Linked DNA regions of Homo sapiens. The protein of the gene in region 6 interacts with the protein of the main gene of each other region in a pairwise test. Each region holds a gene or a part of one and is shown on either strand. Other genes may lie near its edges.

What was found.
Region 1: the proteins of EIF3F (region 6) and COL1A2 interact in binary tests that used the Homo sapiens proteins (3 or more experiments, as listed by UniProt).
Region 2: the proteins of EIF3F (region 6) and MYDGF interact in binary tests that used the Homo sapiens proteins (3 or more experiments, as listed by UniProt).
Region 3: the proteins of EIF3F (region 6) and DNALI1 interact in binary tests that used the Homo sapiens proteins (3 or more experiments, as listed by UniProt).
Region 4: the proteins of EIF3F (region 6) and NUP58 interact in binary tests that used the Homo sapiens proteins (3 or more experiments, as listed by UniProt).
Region 5: the proteins of EIF3F (region 6) and PKN1 interact in binary tests that used the Homo sapiens proteins (3 or more experiments, as listed by UniProt).
Region 7: the proteins of EIF3F (region 6) and AGR2 interact in binary tests that used the Homo sapiens proteins (3 or more experiments, as listed by UniProt).

What each region holds. Positions count from the first base shown.
Region 1 is NC_000007.14:94,418,895-94,422,394, forward strand, and holds part of COL1A2 (collagen alpha-2(I) chain precursor), read left to right. Parts: intron 1-603; coding exon 604-657; intron 658-1,338; coding exon 1,339-1,392; intron 1,393-1,496; coding exon 1,497-1,550; intron 1,551-1,646; coding exon 1,647-1,754; intron 1,755-2,114; coding exon 2,115-2,168; intron 2,169-3,004; coding exon 3,005-3,058; intron 3,059-3,500. UniProt on the Homo sapiens protein: Type I collagen is a member of group I collagen (fibrillar forming collagen).
Region 2 is NC_000019.10:4,657,045-4,660,342, forward strand, and holds the end of MYDGF (myeloid-derived growth factor precursor), read right to left. Parts: intron 2,960-3,298; coding exon 2,887-2,959; intron 1,041-2,886; coding exon 961-1,040; 3' UTR 501-960; downstream 1-500. UniProt on the Homo sapiens protein: Bone marrow-derived monocyte and paracrine-acting protein that promotes cardiac myocyte survival and adaptive angiogenesis for cardiac protection and/or repair after myocardial infarction (MI).
Region 3 is NC_000001.11:37,563,440-37,566,939, forward strand, and holds the end of DNALI1 (axonemal dynein light intermediate polypeptide 1), read left to right. Parts: intron 1-1,586; coding exon 1,587-1,622; 3' UTR 1,623-3,415; downstream 3,416-3,500. Other genes in the region: GNL2 (nucleolar GTP-binding protein 2), read right to left, coding at 3,416-3,500. UniProt on the Homo sapiens protein: Involved in sperm flagellum assembly.
Region 4 is NC_000013.11:25,325,625-25,329,124, reverse strand, and holds part of NUP58 (nucleoporin p58/p45), read right to left. Parts: intron 2,210-3,500; coding exon 2,091-2,209; intron 1,696-2,090; coding exon 1,613-1,695; intron 1-1,612. UniProt on the Homo sapiens protein: Component of the nuclear pore complex, a complex required for the trafficking across the nuclear membrane.
Region 5 is NC_000019.10:14,460,806-14,464,305, forward strand, and holds part of PKN1 (serine/threonine-protein kinase N1), read left to right. Parts: intron 1-2,861; coding exon 2,862-2,937; intron 2,938-3,022; coding exon 3,023-3,164; intron 3,165-3,254; coding exon 3,255-3,348; intron 3,349-3,500. UniProt on the Homo sapiens protein: PKC-related serine/threonine-protein kinase involved in various processes such as regulation of the intermediate filaments of the actin cytoskeleton, cell migration, tumor cell invasion and transcription regulation.
Region 6 is NC_000011.10:7,990,337-7,993,836, forward strand, and holds part of EIF3F (eukaryotic translation initiation factor 3 subunit F), read left to right. Parts: intron 1-1,444; coding exon 1,445-1,515; intron 1,516-1,747; coding exon 1,748-1,827; intron 1,828-2,550; coding exon 2,551-2,688; intron 2,689-3,500. UniProt on the Homo sapiens protein: Component of the eukaryotic translation initiation factor 3 (eIF-3) complex, which is required for several steps in the initiation of protein synthesis.
Region 7 is NC_000007.14:16,791,311-16,794,999, reverse strand, and holds the end of AGR2 (anterior gradient protein 2 homolog precursor), read left to right. Parts: coding exon 1-64; intron 65-2,042; coding exon 2,043-2,092; 3' UTR 2,093-3,189; downstream 3,190-3,689. UniProt on the Homo sapiens protein: Required for MUC2 post-transcriptional synthesis and secretion. May play a role in the production of mucus by intestinal cells. Proto-oncogene that may play a role in cell migration, cell differentiation and cell growth. Promotes cell adhesion.

The DNA.
Region 1 (3,500 bases), on a different chromosome or scaffold from region 6:
CTCCTATGCTTTAGGAAGCCGGGACCTCTAACAAGATTCTATAGTTATTCAAACCTACTCCCTAGAAATTTATCACCCAAAGAGCAGCCCCAAAGATTAGCTGTTAATGCCATGAAGATGCCAAAGATAATCCCATGACAGTCTAATTACCTTATCTCGTATGTCAGCCTCATGGGTCTTCTAGGCCACAGTCGGCCTGGATTCCTTTATTCACCTCTCCTTCAGAGCTGAAAACTGACTGTAGCACATCTGTAATAGTCTTTCTTTTGAATCACGTAGTTCTAACAGTTTCAAACAAGGCTACTCATTTGCTGCTCTCCAGGGAATTTTACAATAGCGGAAAGTTCAGATCTCCCAAATTTCTGACCTGCTATTGACTTACACATTTCCATAACCTTTATTACTGGAGTACCCTCCTTCTGAGAGTGGCTTCTAATAGTCTTGTTAATTAGAACCAAAATACATCAGAGGCCTTCTAGATATCCAACCAGAGTGCAGTGAAAGTGTTCAGTCACTGTATAAGCACAGAAAAAAAGAATGACAAGGTTCACTTTTGATGATACGGGGTGTTATTAATAAGACATGTTTCCTTTTTGGTACTAGGGTGCTCCTGGTGCTGTAGGTGCCCCTGGTCCTGCTGGAGCCACAGGTGACCGGGTAAGCATGCATTTTCACTAAGCCAACAGCAATATCTAAAATTTCCCGCCTTCCCTAGTCCCAAAGAGCCCCAGCAATTCATTTTTATGGCTTGGTATAAAGCCTACTTATTTAAAAACCTAGCTATTGTGATAGAGCAGCAGGAAACAAATGCTGTGTGTTTAAAATTACTTTTCCCTTCCTATAGATTTGCCAGCTATCTGATCTATACTCTAATCCCTAGCATTTGTTTTAAAGTCTCTCCATGTTGCGCATTAACAATATCCTAATGCACTGAGGCTTCTCAAAGCCTTCAATTATTACCAAAAAATCAATAAAATACATAGTGTGCCCATTTCACATTGAACTCTCCACTTAAAATAGATCTTATTTATTGTATTGCAAAGATTGCCACAAATAGATCAGCCCCGTGTCCATCTAAAAATTAAAATGTCCTCCTCCTGGTATTGTAGGCACTGATTTATAGTGTTTTCTCAAGTGTATAACCCATACTACTTAACCCCCAAAATGAATATAGCATTAAGTAAAAATCCACTTCATTTTACTCTGTGAGATGTGCGTCAGTTATCTCTTCCAAGGCAACTACAGACTCTGTCTGTCCACCACTGTTCTCTCTCCCTCCCAGTTCTTTGAGCATCTATGTCAGGCACATTAACAGATTCATCTTTGGTCCCATTATAGGGCGAAGCTGGGGCTGCTGGTCCTGCTGGTCCTGCTGGTCCTCGGGGAAGCCCTGTAAGTAAGAACCTGGGTCATTTTGTATACTCACACCTCACAATGTTTAGACATTGATGAACCTAGGATTGATAACACATTTTTAAATCCCTTCTCCCACCTAGGGTGAACGTGGTGAGGTCGGTCCTGCTGGCCCCAATGGATTTGCTGGTCCTGCTGTGAGTATCACATAATGAAGATTAATCTGAAAACATCCTAAGTTGGGGAGTAGAGTGGGTCGGAATACCAGAGCTGTAACTGTTTATTTCCAACAGGGTGCTGCTGGTCAACCTGGTGCTAAAGGAGAAAGAGGAGCCAAAGGGCCTAAGGGTGAAAACGGTGTTGTTGGTCCCACAGGCCCCGTTGGAGCTGCTGGCCCAGCTGTAAGTTGAATTCACTGGTGGTCCACACAGCAGCTACCCATTAGATCTTCCAATTAAATATATATCCGTCAAGTGCCTGCTATGCAACAGGGAATATACCAGATAGAAGATGGAAAATAACGGAAGGATTAACATTTGCACACTGCTTTACAAAGTATAAAAGTTTCATGAATATTGTTTTATTTTAATTCTCTGATAACCTCATAAGGGTGGTAATATTGAAGAACATTCTGACACAGATAGTCATTTTTTATTTCTATATTTTCTTCTAAGAGATGCGGGAATGATCCACTTGAAGAAAAGAGTAGCATTTACAAGGGTTTGTTTGTGATTTGACTCCATCTTTTTGTTTGCATTTAGGGTCCAAATGGTCCCCCCGGTCCTGCTGGAAGTCGTGGTGATGGAGGCCCCCCTGTGAGTATTTACAATGGACTCTCGCCGCTTTTCTTTTTTCAGAATCTATTAAGGACACTTGAAAGTTTTGAAATTTTTGGTAAATTTGGACTACCATGAGGAAACTTTTGAGATTCAAGTTCATTCTATTCAGAGCAATTCCGATATTGATGTTAACTTGAACTCAGCTGGAACTCAGTGTATGTTGCTATCAGCTCACTTGAGGTAATAACCAAGGTGGGCCCTAGGCAGTTTAATTGTAAAGTCGGAAAAAATATTCCTTTTGGCGTTTATTAATATGCCCCTTCTTCTGCCTGACCATGTCCTTCTCCTTTGCAGGCAATGCTATCACAACAATTCTCTAGAGACCCAGAGCTCCCCAAAAATGAACTTTACTGACTTCTTCTCTCACTGGACAGTGCTGAATTATCTAGGTCATTTGTTATTCTTTTGTCCATGAACACCATTACCTATTAAGTGTCCATTTCCTTACCACTCAGCCAGGTGGTAAAGATAGTTATTAATGTATACACATTAATGTGTAATAATGACATAGTGTCTTATCTTCATACCTTTACAACCATAAGATAATATGTCAGCATTTCAGAAAGGACCATCCAAACCTTAACGCAAAATATGGGCATTGCAACTGGTAATATGCTGGTAAGGAAGATGTGTGGAGAAGGAGGGCCTTCAGGGTCCTGGCTAAATAATGCCCTATATGAAGCTGCCTACCTCCTACTCCTTGGTCTATTCCTGGTCACATGTACTGATTTTCCAAAACAAAGAAATTCCCATCTTACCCAAATTCTTGGAGTTGATGTTGACTGTGGAATTCTAATGTGCTTGGCTCTTAGGGTATGACTGGTTTCCCTGGTGCTGCTGGACGGACTGGTCCCCCAGGACCCTCTGTAAGTAAATCACTGTAAACGTGTCTTCATTTACTCTAGCCAAAAGGCCTGGCTTCTGATAGGAAACTGGTAAGAAACTCTTCATGAAAACACATCACTAATATTCGCTATTACTCTCCTGGTCTGAAGTCAGCTTTTCTGAACCATTAAGGTATTTCATCACAAGTTATATTTTATAATATCAGTTTAAGAGGCTTTTATTCATGTGAACACCAGTCCCCTTTCAGGGGCATGGTCTTTTTGAAAAAAAAAAAACAAAAAAACGAACAGTTTTAGCCACATATCAGATATTTCTATATCTAATTATCCTTTATGGCTAACATTCTGCCTCCATTGTTAAGGTATAATTGTTCCTGAATTTAAAGGTGGTTTGGCCTCTAATTTAATTCTGATTCAGACTCTCCTGTCAGGACTCAAGAAAATTTAATTAATTACCAAGGAT
Region 2 (3,298 bases), on a different chromosome or scaffold from region 6:
AAACGCTGTCTCTATCAAAAGAAGATGCAAAAATTAGCCGGGCATGGTGGCGTGTGCCTGTAGTCCCAGCTACTTGGAAGGCTGAGGTGGCAAGATCGCTTGAGCCCAGGAGGTGGAGGTTGCAGTGAGCCGTGTTACACCACTACACTTCAGCCTGGGTGACAGGAGAAGACCCTGTCTCAAAAGAAAAACAAACTAAGGGAAACCAATGCCCCAGGCTGCAGAGAGCAGGTCGGCCTTGGAACATCCTCCCGCGCTGGGGCCTGTGGCAGCCACAGAAACCCGGGTGTGAATTCACAACATGTGGGGGACCCAGGGACAGCGAGTGCCAAGGGGGGAAGGGGGCAAGTTCACATACAGCCACCTTGGGATCTAGCGCTTTGATGCCTGCAGAGAAGTCCCACCCAGAGACACCGCCCACCCGCCCACGGTGGGGCAGTGTCAGCCGCGTCTGAGCTCCTGACCCGCAACGGCCAGCCGGGAGGGCCCAGGCTGTGGGGTTGCTTTTTAATGTTCTTATTTATTTAAATATGAAAAAACATTTCATCTCTTCCCAGTTCATCTGAAAGGAGGTCCCCTGGGTAAACATAGGAAAGCAGTTCTGCAGGCTCATGAAGGATGCTCGGCTGGAGGTCGGGGGGAGCATGGCTGCTTTCCCCAGCATAGCCCCCATGTTCCCCACCCTCTTTGTGCCCCGGATCTGCGATCCTGAGTCCAGAAGAGCTCAGCAGGAAGTGGGAACTGAGAAGCTGTTGGGAGCCAGGAGGGCCCTGGACCCTCTGTTCTCTGCCCCAGGGCTTCAGCCACCCTGCAAGCCCCTCCGGACAAGGCAACGTCAGCCCAGGTAGAAAACTTAAGAGTCCCTCCTAGAAAACCAGTGATGTGCTGGCCCTTTCAGGGACACAGGCCCCTTCAGCTTCACCGGAGATGAGAAGGTGCCACCCGCAACAGGGCTGCTGGTCACAGCTCAGTGCGCGATGCCTTGGCCACAATCACCAGCTTGGACAGCTCAGCTTTGAATGCCCCGGGCCTGTGAGCCACTGCAAGAAAGAAACACATGGTTGGGCCCTCAACATTGAAAATTCTCAGAAGTCCGGAGGATTTGGGGTGGGGCCCATGGTGGGGGCTAAGCAGGCAAGGGGAGCAGTCTCCAAAGCAGACTCCCATGTGAAAAGGCCCCAGGCACTGAAAGTCTTACGGGTGACAGACAGGAAAACAGTGATGTGGAGGGTAAGGTCGGTGGGGCTAACATAGATGGCAGGCAGCAGGAAGCCACAGAAAGACCTGAGGTGGGAAGAACCCTGGTCATTTGTGCCATGTTGTCAAGAAGAGATGCAGAAAGGGGCCAGAAGAAGCCCAGGAAGGAGATGATCCCGGCCTGAACAGGATGCAGGGTGGGTCAGGCTGCAAGACCTCCTGCTCAGTGGGTGAACCTGTCTGAGGCCCTCATGACACTTCTCCAGCAGGGTCAGAACTCTGGCTTCCACTGCTTCACCCAAGTCTCCCGGCCCTACCTGCTGTGTCCACTCCCTTGGCTCCCACCCTTGCCCCAGCTCGGCGCCTCCGATTCCTCTTTCTGCTTAGCATTGGCGCCATGCAGCTGAATGTGGCTTGAGGACACCGGTGCTGCTCAGGCAACCGAAGAAGGACCCTGATGTTTCCCAGTGACCCCTGCAGCCTCCCCTCGGCATGCCACAGTCCCAACCTCAAAGCCCTGATGGTTTCTACTTTGTTTTATTTCATTTATTTATTTTTTAAAATTTATTATTTTTTTTGAGATGAGAGTCTTCCTCTGTTGCCTAGGCTGGAGTGCAGTGGTGCAGTCTCGACTCACTGCAACCTCCTGCTCCTAAGTTCAAGAGATTCTCCTGTCTCTGCCTCCTGAGTAGCTGGGATTACAAGCATGTGCCACCATCCTTGGCTAATTTTGGTATTTTTAGTAGAGAAGGGGTTTCACCATGTTGGCTAGGCTGGTCTGGAACTCCTGGCCTCCCAAAGTGCTGGGATTACAGGTGTGAGCCACCATGCCCAGCCCTGTTTATTGTTTTTGAGACAGAGTCTTACTCTGATGCCCAGGCTGGAGTGCAGTGGTGCGATCATAGCTCAATGCAGCCTCGACCTCCTGGGCTCAAATAATCCTCCCACCTCAGCCTCCTAAGTAGCTGAGACTACAGGTACACACCACCATGCCCGGCTAATTTTTTTTCTTTTTGAGACAGAATCTTGCTGTCTTCCAGGCTAGAGTGCAGTGGCATGATCTCAGCTCACTGCAACCTCCACCTCCCAGGTTCCAGCAATTCTCCTGAATAGCTGGGATTACAGGTGCGCACCACCACGCCTGGCTAATTTTTTGCATTTTTAGTAGAGATGGGGTTTCATTATGTTGGCCAGCTGGTCTGGAACTCCTGACCTCAAGTGTTCCGCCCGCCTCGTCCTCCCAAAGTGCTGGGATTACAGGCGTGAGCCACCGCACCCAGCCTGATTTTTAAAAAAATTTTGTAGAGACAGGGTCTCGCTATGTTGCCCAGGCTGGTCTTGACCTCCTGGGCTCCAATGATCCTCCCACCTTAGCCTCCTGAGCAGCTGCGGTAACAGGCATGAGCCACCGCGCCCAGCTAAGATAAAGTTCTAGTGGCACACAGCCACACCCACGCATGGACATACTGTCTGCAGCAGCTTTGTGCCACAATGGCACAGCTCTAGACAGAACCCACAGTGCCACAAAGCTGAAGATATTGACGAGGTGGCCTTTATAGAATCAGTTTGTGGATGCCTGGTCTACAGTCTCCAGGACCCCTATGGCTGACCCCCCTCTCCAAACTGCCCCGATTGCCCACCCTTGGATGGGGGTGGCGTCACCTCTACCCCATCCCCATCTTTCCGTACCTGCTGTTTTGGTCACTTCAAATTCCTCAGTTTTCAGAGGGACATCACTTTCCCTTTCAAATGCGGCTTTAGACTGAAAAAGAATGAGTGGAAACTTTACCAGGGCCAGTTCAATGCTCATCATTAGGAAAACGATTGAGTTTGCTTTCCAGAGAAGCACAGACTAAAGCTTTCTACTTTTACTAGAGATGGAGAGGAGACTTTTTTGTTTTTGAGCCAGGACCTCACTCTACTGTCCAGGCTGGAATGCAGCAGTGCAATCATAGCTCACTGCAGCTTCAAAGTCCTGGACTCAAGTGATCCTCCTGCTGCGGCCTCCTGAGTAGGTGGGACTATGGGTGCATGCCAACACGCCTGGCTATTTTTTTTTTACTTTTGGTAGATATAGGGTCTTGCTATGTTGCCTAGGCTG
Region 3 (3,500 bases), on a different chromosome or scaffold from region 6:
AAGCAATCTTGTAATCTCCAGGGTGAAAGATTCTTTAGAAGTTGGCATTTTTAAATTTTTTTTCTTTTGAGACGGAGTTTTGCTCTTGTTGCCCAGGCTGGAGTGCAATGGCACCATCTCAACTCATTGCAACCTCTACCTCCCGGGTTGAAGTGATTCTCTTGCCTCAGCCTCCTGAGTAGCTGGGATTACAGGCATGTGCCAGCACGCCCGGCAAATTTCTGTATTTTGAATAGAGATGGGGTTTCACCATGTTGGCCAGGCTGGTCATGAACTCCTGACCTCACATGATCTGCCCACCTTGGCCTCCCAAAGTGCTGGAATTACAGGCTTGTAATACAGGAAGTGAGCTATTTTTATTGGCTCAAAACTGCATTGCAAATAAAGCAGCTTTGCTGTCCCCAGGATAGACCTACCTAAAGATCTGTCCAGTATTATTTTATTGGCTACCAGAGGAACATAGTAAATAACTCCCAAGTGTCTTAAGCTTTACATAAAGAGGGACAGCTCTCGGCTGGGTGTGGTAGCTCACACCTGTAATCCCAGCACTTTGGGAGGCCGAGGCAGGTGGATCACATGAGGTCAGGAGTTTGAGACCAGCCTGGCCAACGTGGTGAAACCCATTTCTACTAAAAATACAAAAAGTAGCTGGGCGTGGTGATGTGCATCTGTAATCCAAGCTACTCAGGAGGCTGAGGCAGGAGAATCACTTGAACCCGGGAGGTAGAGGTTGCAGTGAACCGATATCACACCATCACACTCCAGCCTGGGTGACAAGAGCAAAACTCCATTCCCCACCCCCACCCCCCAACAAAGAGGGACAGCTCTGTATTCACTGGCAGCATTTCTCTAATTGTGTGCCAAGTTGTCTCAGTGGCTGAAAATTCACTGTTTCCCAAACCTCTGGTCCCAGCAGAACTCCCAGGATCCTAAACCAGAGAGCCAATATTTTTTTTTTTTTGAGACGGAGTCTCCCTCTGTCACCCAGGCTGGAGTGCAGTGGCACGATCTTGGCTCACTGCAAGCCCCGCCTCCCAGGTTCATGCTATTCTCCTGCCTCAGCCTCTGGAGTAGCTGGGACTACAGACGCCTGCCACCACGCCCAACTAATTTTTGTATTTTTAGTAGAGACGGGGTTTCACCGTGTTATCCAGGATGGTCTGGATCTCCTGACCTCACGATCCGCCCGCCTCAGCCTCCCAAAGTGCTGGGATTACAGGAATGAGCCACTGCGCCCGGCCAGAGAGCCAAATGTTTAACTTAGCAGACATATTCTGGCCTGAAACCTGAGCCATGAAAAGCCCTTACAACAATGCATTCAATATCCTTTTCAATGCTTTATATCATACCCGGAGCCATTATTGTGTTGAAACCAGGACAGCTCTGGCTTCTCCTCATATACTAAAGACTGTATGCCAAGCTAGAAACTAGCTAATCTAGAAAATATGGATTTGGGGATCAAGGGGAAAAAGAACCCTTGGAGTGACAGCATGTGGATTCTTCTTCCCAGAGATTTGATCACCTCTCAGCTATTTGTATCAGGCTGCAAGTTTCAAGTATTAATGGAGCTTGTTTTTGTTTTTCAGGCCCAACTGGAAGGCATTATTGCACCAAAGAAGTGATAATTTCCACATGATTAATTTCCAACAAGACACTTGGGAGTTATTTACTGTGTTCCTCTGGCAGCCAATAAAATCATCATAAGCCCTTTGTAATAAAAAGCTAGTTTCCTGAGTGAACAAGCCATAACCTCCCCTAAACACCACCTAGGTATTTGTTAGAAGTCACACTATTACTCCAATGTCATCAGACACCTAAGGTCTGCCAGCCAGGCTCCTGGCTGGGCAATGGAAGATGGTGTGGCCCTGTTAGTCTCCGTGTGTGGCTTACTAGCCAGCCTTGGGAACTGCCAACTCAAATTCTAAGAAAGCCACTGCTTTCTCATCATCACTCTATACCAATACTTATTTCTGGCCAAATGAATCTGCTTCTCTGCCCCTCAAACTTTTAGTTCACAATTCATCTTCTACCTTAACTTGGGCTTCTTGGGCCTCTGGCCTTCCTTACTTAATGTCTTCTTTTCCCTACTCTAATGCATTTCTAACTCACTTTGGAGCTTTGGTTTTCTAATGTATTATCCCCACTTGCCAGTCAACTGGACCCCTTCCTCCTCGGTTTCAGACTGCCTACATTAGGAAACAATGGCAGTCAAACCCATGGCTTTGGAGAAAGTAAATGTTTGCCAGAAAGGAATACTAGTCACAGTGGCCTTTGTGAGTTGTCTGCAACTCAGCTCTTCCCCCAGCACAGATCTGTTCCCCTTATCCTGCAGAAAATCAAGCCCTGACTCTGCACTCCCCGAAGTAGTGATGTTAATTAACAACTGAAGAGGTAACTAAATCTCACATGCAGGTCTAATGACTAATAATTGGAGTACGGCTGCTAGACAACTGCATTTTAGTATTTCTCTTCCATTCTCCTGGTTTTGTAGACCCAGAAGATTGAATGAGTGACATAAATCTTTAGTTCGGGGCAAGCCAGGGTGGGCTAGGGTGGTAAGCTGGAGGACTTCATCCTTCAGTTAGGCTGCACAAGTAACATTACCTAAAAGGCACTAACATGCTCAGGTTCCCCAGAAAGAGGCGTAAGAAGGGCCTCTCCTTAGCAGAGCTTCCACCTGCCATCCGTCTTGGGTTCAGTGAGCTTCAAGGCTCACAATGGAAGCACTGTCATTTCCCCAGAAAAGCTGTGTTCCCTATGCTGAACACACCATACACATTCTCATCTGGAATCTAAGGAGCAGCTTTTACCCTGATCCAGTATCCTGAGGAATTTTAAGCCTCCACTCAAATGACCTGCCTGTGTTGTCATTTCCATGGGAAAGAACTCTTTCCACGAGATCTGCTAGTTCCAGGCCTCTAAGACAGGAACGTATGTGCCATAAGTGGGTCTACTTCACAGACTCAATGAGGCAGAAATTATTGTAGTTTTCTCCTATTTCTTCTGCACCCAACTTTCTCCTTGTATTTCAAAGGCCAGGCCATGTACACTAACGTCCTTGAAATTTGCAGTTCTGTATGCTTCTATTCCAAATCATTCATTACCAATAAAAACGAAATACCACCCTTTCCATTTTATAGACCTCATCCCCTATTTCTGTCAGACAGTTATATGACAGGGTGACTGTGGAACCTCTTAGTTCATCCAAAGTCTACCTGAAGTGCTAGACTTTCAGACTCTTATCACTGAAATCCTTAAGGTTGAGGAGGCTTTATTTCCCTAGCACTGGTGAAGGGCTTCAACTGTCAAACCTCAGAACAAATGCATTAGGGCCTTAGAAATGTCAATGGGGCAGGAAGAAAACACAATTTCTAACTGCCTGTTTTTGTATAATTTAATAAAAACCTTTTAAACATTACTGCTTTTGTCTGAATTTTTTGCGTTTGTGTTTCTGTCCCTCTGAGTCATTGGTCTTCTTTTTGTTCCTGTTCCTATTTTTC
Region 4 (3,500 bases), on a different chromosome or scaffold from region 6:
TAAAGTAACATTTATTATAGACTAATAGAATTTTTTTAAATCTGATAAAATTCCTCCTTTAGAACAAAATTTAAAGATTTGGGTTACAGTTTTAAATCTACTAAAGCAAAAGGTCTAAAGTGCACTACCATTTCAAAAATGGTGTAATTTAAATGGTTTACTTAAAAAAATCCTGTTACTATGCATGAAATCAAAATAAAAATGAAAATGTTGATAATTCCAATTAAACTCTATTCTACACAGTTGATAATTTATCTAGACTCAGGTTTCGCTGCTTGAATTTTAAAGGTATTTTGGACCACATACACTCCAAGATTAAAGAGTTTAATTACATTTGCTCAGTTAGTTAGAAAAGATGTACTTACCTTGAACATTTCACTTAAATACATTTTTAAAACTAACGTTATTATGAGAGTCAAAATATTCAGGCTGGGTGCAGTGGCTCATGCCCATAAATCCTAGCACTTTGGGAGGCCGAGGAGGGAGGATTGCCTGAATTTAGTAGTTCGAGACCAGCCTGTGCAACATGGCAAAACCCTGTCTCTACTAAAAATACAAAAAATTAGCCAGGCATGGTGGCACGTGCCTGTAGTCCCAGCTATTCAGGAGGCTGAGGCATGAGAATCACTTGAACCCAGGAGGTGGAGGTTGCAGTGAACCAAGATCATGCCACTGAACTCCAGCCTGGGCGACAGAGCAAGAGTCTGTCTCAAAAAAAAAAAAAAAAAAGCGAGAGTCAGTCTAAATATTCAGTGATAAATCATTTTATTTACACTATTTAATAAACACAAACAGTTCCCTGTATTTAAAAGGGAGAAATGCTGTAAGCCGGTTTTTAATGCAGTGGCCAATAAACACTTAAAACAGATAAAATTAAGGTAGTACAAAATCATTTGCTACTAAGAATGCTTATTTTCTTTTTTTTTGAGATGGAATCTTGCTCTGTTGCCCAGGCTGGAGTGCAGTGGTGTGATCTCGGCTCACTGCAACCTCCACCTCCTGGGTTCAAGCGATTCTCCTGCCTCAGCCTCCCAGGTAGCTGGGACTACAAGTGCCCGCCACCATACCCGGCTAATTTTTGTAATTTTAGTAGAGACGGGGTTTCACCATATTGGCCAGGCTGGTCTTGAACTCCTGACTTTGTGATTCGCCCGCCTCGGCCTCCCAAAGTGCTGGGATTACAGGTGTAAGCCACTGTGCCTGACTAAGAATGCCTATTTTCTATAGTGCTATTTATAGTAGTAAAGAAATAGAAACCACCTAAATATCCAACAGAAAATGGGTTAAACAATGTACAACCATACAACAAACTCCTATGTTAACTATTAAAAATGATATTCAGGAAATATGTGTATTAACATAGAAAGTTATTCACAATGCACTGCTTAAAAAAAAGTTATAATAACAGACTACAGCGTACTTGGATCTTTTTTAAAAGAACAGGTATTATCAATCGTTATGTCTGGGTATGTTATGGATTATAGTAGTTTTCATCTTTTCACTTATATGTAATTTTAGCTATTTCTGTATCAAGCATGGACACATTTGTCCCCAGATGAACAAATACTTGGGTCTACATATCCAGGTAGATAAATGGGTAATGAAAACTTACCTTTACATTTTCATGAATAGACTGAAGTTGTGCCGCTAAAGCTACAAATGTTTGATAAATTTTCTGCATAGCCATTGACAAATCTATAAAAGAAAATTACATTATCACCCAAATATATACATATATATAGCACAATCCATTTTATTTTTCTATTTGAGTCCAATTTTTGGCACAGTTAACGTGTAGGAGAAAAAAACTCTATCAACGTTCTCATGGCCAGAGAACACACAGAGTAGCAGACTGAATGTCTACAAAAGAAATCTGGGGGGAAGGCCCTAAGATTTCTGTCCTTGTTACCACAGTAACAATTCATATAATAAAGCATATTATATTTATAGGGAATAAAGGAGTAGTAAATGACTTTTAAGGAAATTTTCTTAAAGGGGCTACCAGTAGTTATCCAAAATACCTATTATATAACCACATCTATCTCCTACAAACAAAAGTTCAAAAAAAATTACCACAGTAAGCATGTTACCTTGAGGGGTTATATGTGAATTATTTGCTTGAGTGGCAAGATGGTTTTCTAGTTCTTCAATCTGCTGCCTGTACTGCTGAAGCTGTACCTCAAATTGCTGAACCAAGATTCTGAAGTAGCTTTAAAAAACATTTAAAAAGTCAGATCAAATATTTTTTTAATTTGGAGTGACAAATCCAAATTAAGGAATATTCTGCAATCATTTAATAGTCTTCAAAAGTATCAAGGTTATCCAAGGAAAGGAAGGACTGAATAACTGTGACTGGAAGATATTAAGGAGAAATTACAAATGCACTGTGAATCCCAAATAGGATGCTGAAACAGAAGTACACTAGTGGAAAAACTGGTTGAATTTCAGTAAGTTTAGTAGTTTAGTTAATAATATTGTAACAATTTTAGTTTCCTGTTCTTGGTAATTATACTATAGTTATAAGTTAACATTAGGGGAAGCAAGGGAAGCGATATAAATAAATTCTCTGTACTACTATTTTGGAAGTTTTCTGTAAGGTTAAAATAAATTTAAAATAAAGTAGAAACGTCTACCAACCAGATTTCAGAATTAAGAATTTATAGTCATTTTATCAATGAAATTTATAATCTGAGAACACCATAGTATACTACAGAAAGCACATGTAATTATTGCTACTTTTCTAATAAATTTACCCACAGAGAGTGCTAGACAGATAAAAAAAAAAAAAGAAGGTATCTTGAATAGTATACAGAGGAATCTGAATGTCTTTCAGTAAACAATGGGCAACCATGAATGCATTTTGCAAAATTAGCTCTGATGGCAGTATTAAGTACAAGACAGAGGGATAAAATAGTAGAGGAAGTCCAGTGAGGAAGCACATCTCATGCCAACCTGAGTAAGACGAATATCATGGGCATTATGAATTTCCTGATTTTGAGAACTGTTAAGTATGAGAATATCCTTATTTTTAAGAAATATCCACTGAAGTACTTTAGCATAGTGAACATTATTTCTGCAAATAACCCAAACTGTTTGGGGGAGAAATGTATATACACACATAGAATGTGAGGAACAAAAATATGGTAAAAATGTTAATATGTAGGAAATTGGAATGAAAGGCATACAGGAATTTTTAGTTCTCATCTTGAAACTTTTCTGTAGACCAAAATTATAATAAAAAACTAAAAGAATAAAATAAGTAAGGGGCCAGGCGTGGTGGCTCACATCTGTAATCCCAGCACTTTAGGAGTCTGAGGCGGGAGAATCACTTTAGCCTAGGACCAGCCTAGGCAACACTGTGAAATGGCATCTCTACAAGTTAATTAATTAATTGTGAGGGACCAGGAATCAAACAGACCTCCACCACTCAACTCACTTTTGCATACCTCAGTCTCTTTATCGCTAAAACTGGAATAACAACAGCTACAGAGATCTTGTGA
Region 5 (3,500 bases), on a different chromosome or scaffold from region 6:
CTATATATTATCTATCAACCAATCTATTTTTCCATGCATCCGTCTCTATTATCTGTCAGTCATCTTATCCATCAATCTTATGTATGCATCATCCATCCATCTATCCATCCCTGTATATTTCTCTGTATATATATCTACCCATTCCTCTCTCTATCTCTATCTATCCCTCTCTATATCTATCTGTGCCTCTGTTTTTCTCTATATAGCTATATCTATCTATCCATCCATCTATATTATCTATCAACTAATCTATCTTTCCGTCTACCCATCTGTCTATATTATCTATCCATCTATATTATCTATCTATCATCTTATCCATCCATCCATTTATCTTATCTATGCTCATCCCTCCATCCATCCATCTCTGTATATTCCTCTATCTCTATTTATATCCACCCATTCCTGTCTCTGTCTCTATCTATCCCTCTCTGTATCTATCTGTGTCTCTCTCTCTTTTTCTCTCGATAGCTGTATCTATCTATCCATCCATCTATCCATGCATCCTTCTCTTTCTATGAATCCCTTTCTCTATCAGTCCCTCTCTCTTTCTCTATCTGTAACTACCCTTCCGTCCATGCCCCTCTCTATCTACCTGCGTCTATATCTGTCTCTTTCTGTGTCTATTTATCCATCTCTCTATATCCATATCCCTAAGCAGAGGTTCTCCCCTGGTCTGACCATCAAGCACCAGTGAAAGAAAGGGGCGGGGCCAGGCACAGTGGCTCACACCTGTAATCCCAGCACTTTGGGAGGCTGAGGCGGGCAGATCACTAAGTCAGGAGTTCGAGACTAGCCTGGTCAACATGGTGAAACCCCGTCTCTACTGAAAATAGAAAAATTAGCCGGGTGTGGTAGCAGGCGCCTGTAATCCCAGCTACGCGGGAGGCTGAGGCAGGAGAATCAGTTGAACCTGGGAGATGAAGGTTGCAGTGAGCCGAGATCGCATCATTGCACTCCAGCCTGGGCAACAACAGCGAAACTCTGTCTCAAAAAAAAAAAAAAGAAAGAAAGAAAGGGGCGTGGAGAAGAGCTGACTCCAGATGGCAGAGGTTTAAAATTGTTCTCCCATTCAGAACACAGCCCAAACCAAATGGAAAGTGATGGTGGGTGGCCTGGGGGACACATTCTAAAGCGTTTCTCCTTGCCTTCAAGGTCTCTCTGTGGCATTCTATTTTGTTTTTATGCCTATACAGAAGCATTCTTCCATAGAACTTTTCTGCAGCTCTGGCCGGGCGCTGTGGCTCACGCCTGTAATCCCAATACTTCGGGAGGCTGAGGCGGATGGATCATTTGAGGTCAGGAGTTTGAGACCAGCCTGGCCAACATGGTGAAACCCTGTCTTTACTAAAAATACAAAAATTCGGCTGGGTGCGGTGGCTCACGCCTGTCATCCCAGCACTTTGGGAGGGTAGGCAGGCAGATCACCTGAGGTCAGGAGTTCAAGACCAGCCTGGCCAACGTGGAAAAACCTAGTCTCTACTAAAAATACAAAAATCAGCCAGGTGTGGTGGCGCACGCCTGTAATCCCAGTTACTTGGGAGGCTGAGGCAGGAGAATCACTTGAACCTGGGAGGCGGAGGTTGTAGTGAGCCAAGATCGCACCACTGTACTCCAGCCTGGGCAACAGAGTGAGACTGTGTCTCAAAAAAAAAAAAAAAGAAATTAGCCGGGCTTGGTGGTGGGTGCCTGTAATCCCAGCTGCTCGGGAGACTGAGGCAGGAGAATCTCTAGAGCCTGGGAGGTGGAGGTTGTGGTGAGCCCAGATTGCGCCACTGCACTCCAGCCTGGGCAACAGAGTCTCAAAGAAAAAAGGAACTTTCTGCAGCTCTGTTGTCGATGCACCCACAGTAGCTGAGTTCTGTTGTAGATGGAAATGTTCTCTATCTGAAGTGTGACCAGTGTGACCAGGGAACCAAAGTTTTAATTTCGCTGACATTTTCACTAATTTAAATCGCCACATGTGACAACCATACCAGACACTGCAGTTCTGTGACTTCAGCACCTTCTAGAAGTTGTATTGGAGTTGGGAGAATTCAACTTGACAGGTGGCTTCCATAGATGGGTGGGCACCAGCATTGCCTGGGGGCTTGTTGAAATACTGAGTGCTTTAGGGCCGGGCACGGTGGCTCGCGCCTGTAATCCCAGCACTTTGGGAGGCCAAAGTGGGCAGATCGCTTGAGCCCAGGAGTTCAGGACCAGCCTGGCCAACATGGTGAAACTCCGTCTCTACAAAAATACAACAATTTGCCAGGCATGGGGGTGCGTGCCTGTAGTCCCAGCTACTCAGGAGGCTGAGGTGGGAGGATCTCTTGAGCCCGGGAGGTGGAGGCTGCAGTGAGCCGAGATCGGACTACTCATATGTGCATATATATATGTGTGTATATATATATATGTGTGTGTGTATATATATATATATATAGAGAGAGAGAGAGAGCATGCGCGCGCTTCCTCCACTCCATGTTTCTGGCTCAGTAGGTCAAACCTGCGTTTCTAGAAAGTTCCCAGGTGTTGCTGCTACTGCAGGTCTGGGGTCTGGGAGCACATGTGGGGAATGGGGTGTGGGATGGCGTGGCGTCCGTTTGCAGTCGCTGTCTGTCAGTCTTGTTGGGTCAGATGCTCTCCCCACCTCTAGAAAGGGACCCGGTTGTTTGCTTCTTGCTTTTCCAAGACGTCCCTTCAGGAGGGGAGCCATGGGTTGCACCGATGACCTCTTCATTGTCACCTGGTACTCGGGTTGAATCTGATGCCACGTGACCAGAACCCCACTTGGGCGCGCACACCTGTGCTCCCAGGGGCTTCCTTACCAAGCTGTCTGCCTGCAGGTGGGCAGAGGGTCCTCACATTTTGGTCCCTTCCCCCAGGTCACCTTCCGCAACCCTGTCATTGAGAGGATTCCTCGGCTCCGACGGCAGAAGAAAATTTTCTCCAAGCAGCAAGGTGAGAGGGTGCTCCAGGCTTCCTGGGGGAGAGGCCAGGGGTCCTGGGAGTGTCATGGAGGGTGACGCCTGCCCCGTCCCCCCAGGGAAGGCGTTCCAGCGTGCTAGGCAGATGAACATCGATGTCGCCACGTGGGTGCGGCTGCTCCGGAGGCTCATCCCCAATGCCACGGGCACAGGCACCTTTAGCCCTGGGGCTTCTCCAGGATCCGAGGCCCGGACCACGGGGTAAGGAAGGAGGGCCCCATGGTCCCGGCTGCCCCTTGAAGCCTGCGAGGGTCCTGGGTCCCAGACACACCCTCCTCTCGTCTGCTGCAGTGACATATCGGTGGAGAAGCTGAACCTCGGCACTGACTCGGACAGCTCACCTCAGAAGAGCTCGCGGGATCCTCCTTCCAGCCCATCGAGCCTGGTGAGGGTCCCCCCTTCTATCCCCGTAGGCCTGGCCTGGGCAGCGTCAGGGGTCCTGCTCCAGGCTCAGAGACCACTAGGAACTTCCCTGGAGCCACGCAGCATGTCTGTGGCAGAACCAGGGCCCAGATCTCTATGCTGGTTAAAACGTGT
Region 6 (3,500 bases):
GTAAATATTTTAGGCTTTGTGTGCAGTCTCTATCACAACTACTTAATTCTGCCTTTGTAGCAAGAAAGCAGCCATAAAAAAATTGGCGTGTAAACTTTATTCACAAAAAACATTTCTAGATCAGGGCCTGGCCTAGAAAAGGAACATTGAATAAAAAGACAAGAGAACAGAGACAAAACCCTAAAAACCTAAAAAGTCAGGAAGAAGTAGCCAACAAGATTAGAAAGGTAGGAAGAAAACTAGAAGGAAAGTTTTAAGATGGGAAGTAAGTGGTCAAGTCTGTTCAACGCTGATGAGAGGTCAAATAAGATAAAGGATATATGTGCATTTGGTTTAGGGACATAGTTTCAGTGAAGGGAGCAGAAACCATAGTGAGTTGGAATTAGATAAACACTGGTAGATATAGACAACACTGTGGTTTCTGGTGGAGAGGGAAACTTTTAAATCCTGGGGTAGGAGGTTCCAATAGATTAGAAGAGAATGGAAAACTCAACGTAGTGGTCTTAGGTCAAGAAACAAATGTAGTGGGAATAAATAAATAAATAAATAAATAAATAAATAAATAAAAGAAATACAGCCTGGGCACCATGGCTCACACTTGTAATCCCAGCACTTTGGGAGGCTGAGGCAGGCAGATCACTTGAGGTCAGTAGTTCAAGACCAGCCTGGCCAACATGGTGAAACCCCGTCTCTAGTAAAAATACAAAAATTAGCTGGGCGTGGTGATGCGCACCTGTAGTCTCAGCTACTCGGGAAGCTGAGGCAGGAGAATCACTTGAACCCTGGAGGCAGAGGTTGCAGTGAGCCGAGATTGCACCACTGCACTCTAGCCTGGGCGACAGCAAGATTTCGTCTCAGAAAAAAAAAAAAGAAAAAAAGAAATATGGAAGTAAAGGTATCAGAACTAGAACAAAAGTTTGTGGTAAAAGACTGACTTCTAAGGTTCGCAGATAGATTTCTGGATGATGATAAGGTTAAGACTGACCATGGGACCAGATGGCTAAAGGGAGGTACAGATGAAGCTCCTGACGTCTCAGTGTCTGAAACTTGGCCACTATATTAGCAGTCTATGTAACCATTAAAATATTCCAGGTAGCTCTGCAGATTAAATTACAGGGAGAAAGTGTAGAGGCTGAAAAAAAAGGCCGTAGAGTGAAGGTCTGGAATAGGCTAGTAGTGGAGAGTAACAGGCAAAAGGAGACCTTGTAAAGGAAGAATAAACCCTATTTGGTGATGATTAGAGGGAGAAGTTGGCGATCACACCACAGTTTCAGTTCCCTGGAGAATTCTGGTCCCATCGATGCACCGGACTAAACTTGGAGCTAATGAGTTCAGTTAGGTGTTCATTGACATTGAAGAGATCATCAAAAGCATTTCAAAAGTAGTCAGAGGTTGTTGGGAGCCCTAGGATTATATAACACATGGACGATTCTCTCTTTCACAGGAACTGTCGACAAACACTCAGTGGAGGTCACCAATTGCTTTTCAGTGCCGCACAATGAGTCAGAAGATGAAGTGAGTGGGAATCCAAGCTGTCCCTCTGCAGTTTTTAGCTGTTCATTTGCTCGGCTCCCCTCACGGTCCCTCCCACACTCATAACTAGAGCTCCTGTAGCCAAGGAGCTTCTTCCCATTTGTACGTACTTCCTGGGCCTCTTCTGTTTATTGGGGGTGGCCTCTTGTCCTTTTTAACCAATTTTTCTTTGGACTTCTGGCTTCTTAGCTTGCTTTCCTGCCTTCCCTCTTAGGTGGCTGTTGACATGGAATTTGCTAAGAATATGTATGAACTGCATAAAAAAGTTTCTCCAAATGAGCTCATCCTGGGCTGGTAAGTTGGGGAGGTGGGGGCTGGGGTTAATGGAAGGTCTCTTCGTGATTGCCGGTGTCTTTTGCTACTGGACTGGATCTTATACTCTTCCTTTTGGAGGCAAGAGTATTGCAAGTGTATTACTGACTGTGAGCAGTGGCTCAATGCCTGTAATCCCAGCTGGGAGGCTGAGGCAGGAGGATCACTTGAGCCCAGTAGTTCAAGATCAGCCTGAACAAAATAGTGAGACCCTGTCTCTACAAAAACATTTTTTAAAAACTTAGCCAGGCATGATGACACACACCTATAGTCCTAGCTATTCAGGAGGCTGAGGCTAGAGGATCACTTGAGGCCAGGAATTTGAAGTTGCAGTGAGCTATGATCATGCCTTGCCACTGCATTCCAGCCTGAGTGACAGAGTGCGACCCTGTCTCTAAAAAACAAAAGGAAAGTGTGTTACCTGTAGGAACTGTGAATTCAGTGGGTTTTGCTGGTGGTTCTGATCCTGTGGGGCCAGGATATTTCGAATTACCTTGTAAGTGACTTGGAATTTTTCATCAGCACTAAGTCAGCCTTTGATTTTATTTGACATAGTTTTCGGTGTGTGTATTGCTCTTGGCAGTTGGTGTCACTAGGTGTCCTACCGTAGAAGTGTCCGGTACCCTGAAGACACCCATGCCACTGTTGTGTTTGATATTGACGCCACATATAGACAGGAGTCCACCACTGTGTTCCATTTCACAGGTACGCTACGGGCCATGACATCACAGAGCACTCTGTGCTGATCCACGAGTACTACAGCCGAGAGGCCCCCAACCCCATCCACCTCACTGTGGACACAAGTCTCCAGAACGGCCGCATGAGCATCAAAGCCTACGTCAGGTGACCACAGTCTTGGGCTACAAGGGCATAAAACCATGCCCAGATGCCATCCCTCCCCCACCCCAAGCAAGGTTAATTCCTTCCATGTGTAACTTGCTGTGTCCTTAGGAAGCCTGTTCCTCTCTCTCAACAGTTATTCTAAAGGTTTCACTCTGAAACAAAATCTGTTCCTGTAATTTCTACCGCTGATCCTAGTTGTACTCCAGTTTCTACTCATTGCCCTTTTAAGTATTTGAGCAAGCTGTCAAGTCATCTTTTGTAGGACCTAACTATTCCATAGTTCCTACAGCCAATCATCACATGGTATTCTTGTCATGATCCTTCACCACATTCATTACTTTTCTGAATTACCCATTAGTTTGTCATTATCTCTAGAACTCAGCACAGCGCTCAGGGTAATACAGATTATAAGGATGACTGTCCTTATTTTGAACACATTTATTAACCCAGGATTGAGTGCAGTTTTAATGACAATGACATTACAGTGAACACGTTGAGCTTGCAGGTGGTTAAAATGCCAGTTATGGGGGATGTTGGGAAAGGCCCTGGTGGCATGCTGAGGAAGCAGCTGTGGTAGTTGGAAAGACCATGGTCAAAGGGAAGGCAGCTGTTAGTGCATCTGTCAGGCTGTTGATTTTGTGCTGGTTCTGTGTCTGACACTGACATAGCCAGTTAACTCTTACACAGTACACAGTAAGACAAAGATGGTGGATGCCAAGTCTTTATGAGCCAGTTGGCATACCACTAAGCACTAGCCATTGCCTGACTTCTTAACCTTCCCAGGTATTTCAGACTCCTCAAGATCCAGTATA
Region 7 (3,689 bases), on a different chromosome or scaffold from region 6:
GCCGATATCACTGGAAGATATTCAAATCGTCTCTATGCTTACGAACCTGCAGATACAGCTCTGTGTAAGTGTGACCTTCAATTCGGATGTTGCCCAAGAGTTGAACACCTCTATTGCTGTAGTGATGGGACTAGAGGCTGCATGGTGAGGTGAGAGAGAGCTAGGCTTAGGGACGCCTCGGACTCAGTTTGACCCTAACTAGCCTTGCATCTTCAGGCAAATCACACTCTTTCCATCTCAGGTTTGTTTGTTTTTAATCTCAATTGAAGATGAATTATTTAGATTAGGTATCTTTTTCTCTAGGAGGATTCTATGACCACATTACCTGATTTTCAGGTTTTCTGTTAGGTACACGAGCACACACTCCTTCTATCACAGAACTGAGTGTAATAATTGTAATAATCTGCATGTCTTAATTTTTTAAATAACAAAAGTGAAAGAATGTGCAGTCCAGCTTAAAATTAAATTCAGGTTCAGTTTAAAGATCAGTTTCAAAGATGATCCAAATGATTGCCAAGAAAATTACCTTCCCTATGGTTGCCATCAATGGAAGAGAGACAGAGAGAGAGAGAGACACTGACTTAAGGCAGATGAGGTACCTCAATGCAACGCTGTAGCTAGCTGTGACATCTGATTAGTCCTCTGGGAAGAAAAGTGGGTTTTATCCTAGGAACCAACTCTGATCAATTAGTAGTGGCTGCCTAGAACTGCACTGTCCAATATGTTAACCATTTGCCACATGTTGCTACTTAAGTTAAAGTTAGAAATTCATTCCTTCAGTCACACTAGCCATATTCCAAGTGCTCAATGCCCGGACACTGAACATTTCCATCATCACAGAAATTTCTATTGGCCAGTGCTGACTTAGAACGTCATGTTGGGAAGAGAAGTGAGGCCGTGTCTAGGAAGCAGGAGAGATCATCATGGTCCATTAGCAATGTTTCCAGTGTGTGCTGGACCAGGGGAAGCACATTCCAAGTACTGTCAGCCATTACTGAGATAATACCATACATTTTAATAAGACTAAGCTCTTAAAAGGCACGTGTCCTACACAAGTAATATCACAATCCCTTGTAGAACAGGCACTTAATAATTAAGATTTGTAGGAAGAGTGAATAAGCGGCTGTTCAATGCCTATCGAGTGGACATCTTATTTTTAGTAGATCACATACCTCATTTTGATGAATTGCTGTTGAAGAAACAGTGACCCAGAGTTTGGGCTCTGGAACAGTAGCTCCATTACTTGTTAGCTGTGTGACCTTGAGCAAGCTACTCAGCCTCTCTCTGCCTGTTTCATTATGTATATATAAAGTTCTAATCGTGTTTGTATGAGGATTAAAGAATTCATCTGCATAAAGCACTTGGTTTGCTATTATTTATATTTCCCCTACTTCTAAAACAATTTACACACACCTACTAATAGACATTTCTTTTAAACATGATTTAAATTTACTTCTAAATGAGCCAAAATTATCTTCTGCTGCTAGAGCTTATAAAAGGATTCTTTTGGAAGTGAGGGTTGGAGATGAAGGATCTGGGAAGGAATGACTACACTAGAAAACTAGATTGTCACAAAAGCCATTTCATATAATTTTTTTAAATTACAATAAGATTACCAACTATTCACCTCATGATAAAAAGCATCCTATCAGGCTGGGCACAGTGGCTCACGCCTGTAATCCCAGCACTTTGGGAGGCCGAGGTGTGTGGATCACTTGAGCTCAGGAGTTCGAGACCAGCCTGGCCAGCATACCAAAACCCCATCTCTCCCAAAAATACAAAAATTAGCTGGGCATGGTGGAGCACACCTCTAATCCCAGCTACTCAGGAGGCTAAGGCTGAAGAATCACTTGAACCCAGGAGGCAGAGGTTGCACTGAGTGGAGATTGCACCACTGCATGCCAGCCTGAGTGGGAGTGAGACCTTGTCTCAAAAAAAAAAGCATCCCATTAAATAATGAATTGAGCATCCAAGTTTGGGGTTTATTATATCGATATAACGCACGATGGTGTCTTGACTCTCCTGCTTTTATCCCCCATTAGTGCTTGACAACATGAAGAAAGCTCTCAAGTTGCTGAAGACTGAATTGTAAAGAAAAAAAATCTCCAAGCCCTTCTGTCTGTCAGGCCTTGAGACTTGAAACCAGAAGAAGTGTGAGAAGACTGGCTAGTGTGGAAGCATAGTGAACACACTGATTAGGTTATGGTTTAATGTTACAACAACTATTTTTTAAGAAAAACAAGTTTTAGAAATTTGGTTTCAAGTGTACATGTGTGAAAACAATATTGTATACTACCATAGTGAGCCATGATTTTCTAAAAAAAAAAATAAATGTTTTGGGGGTGTTCTGTTTTCTCCAACTTGGTCTTTCACAGTGGTTCGTTTACCAAATAGGATTAAACACACACAAAATGCTCAAGGAAGGGACAAGACAAAACCAAAACTAGTTCAAATGATGAAGACCAAAGACCAAGTTATCATCTCACCACACCACAGGTTCTCACTAGATGACTGTAAGTAGACACGAGCTTAATCAACAGAAGTATCAAGCCATGTGCTTTAGCATAAAAGAATATTTAGAAAAACATCCCAAGAAAATCACATCACTACCTAGAGTCAACTCTGGCCAGGAACTCTAAGGTACACACTTTCATTTAGTAATTAAATTTTAGTCAGATTTTGCCCAACCTAATGCTCTCAGGGAAAGCCTCTGGCAAGTAGCTTTCTCCTTCAGAGGTCTAATTTAGTAGAAAGGTCATCCAAAGAACATCTGCACTCCTGAACACACCCTGAAGAAATCCTGGGAATTGACCTTGTAATCGATTTGTCTGTCAAGGTCCTAAAGTACTGGAGTGAAATAAATTCAGCCAACATGTGACTAATTGGAAGAAGAGCAAAGGGTGGTGACGTGTTGATGAGGCAGATGGAGATCAGAGGTTACTAGGGTTTAGGAAACGTGAAAGGCTGTGGCATCAGGGTAGGGGAGCATTCTGCCTAACAGAAATTAGAATTGTGTGTTAATGTCTTCACTCTATACTTAATCTCACATTCATTAATATATGGAATTCCTCTACTGCCCAGCCCCTCCTGATTTCTTTGGCCCCTGGACTATGGTGCTGTATATAATGCTTTGCAGTATCTGTTGCTTGTCTTGATTAACTTTTTTGGATAAAACCTTTTTTGAACAGATCTTTTGGCATTATTAATTTTTCCAGGGATATATTTTCAATCTTTTCTATCTCTCCTAGTGACTACTATCATTAGTAGGTGTTGAGCATATACTGCTGATTTAATGACATACAAATCTTCAGCAAAAATATCACAGGTTAATCAGCTCCCTTCTCACAAGTAGATAACTTACATGTGCTGAAAAAGGTAAAACATTCCATTTAAAAAGATCTCTGAGGGATAACAAGAGGAAAAAGAGGTTTCCCTTCCATAAACAAATATTTTAAATGACAAGTTCTAAGTGATTCAAGTTTCTCCTATAGTATAGCAAAATATTTTTTCATTGGGCGGACGTGAAATAAGGTTAACTTCTTAAAATGTATTGAATGGCAAAATATCTTAACACATACAAATACTTTTTAAATATAAATAAATATTTAGGAAATCAAATGTTACAGCTGTAAGGAAAATAAGTCCCCCTTTTAAAAGCATTGAAGAAACACAAAGCATGAGTCATTAAT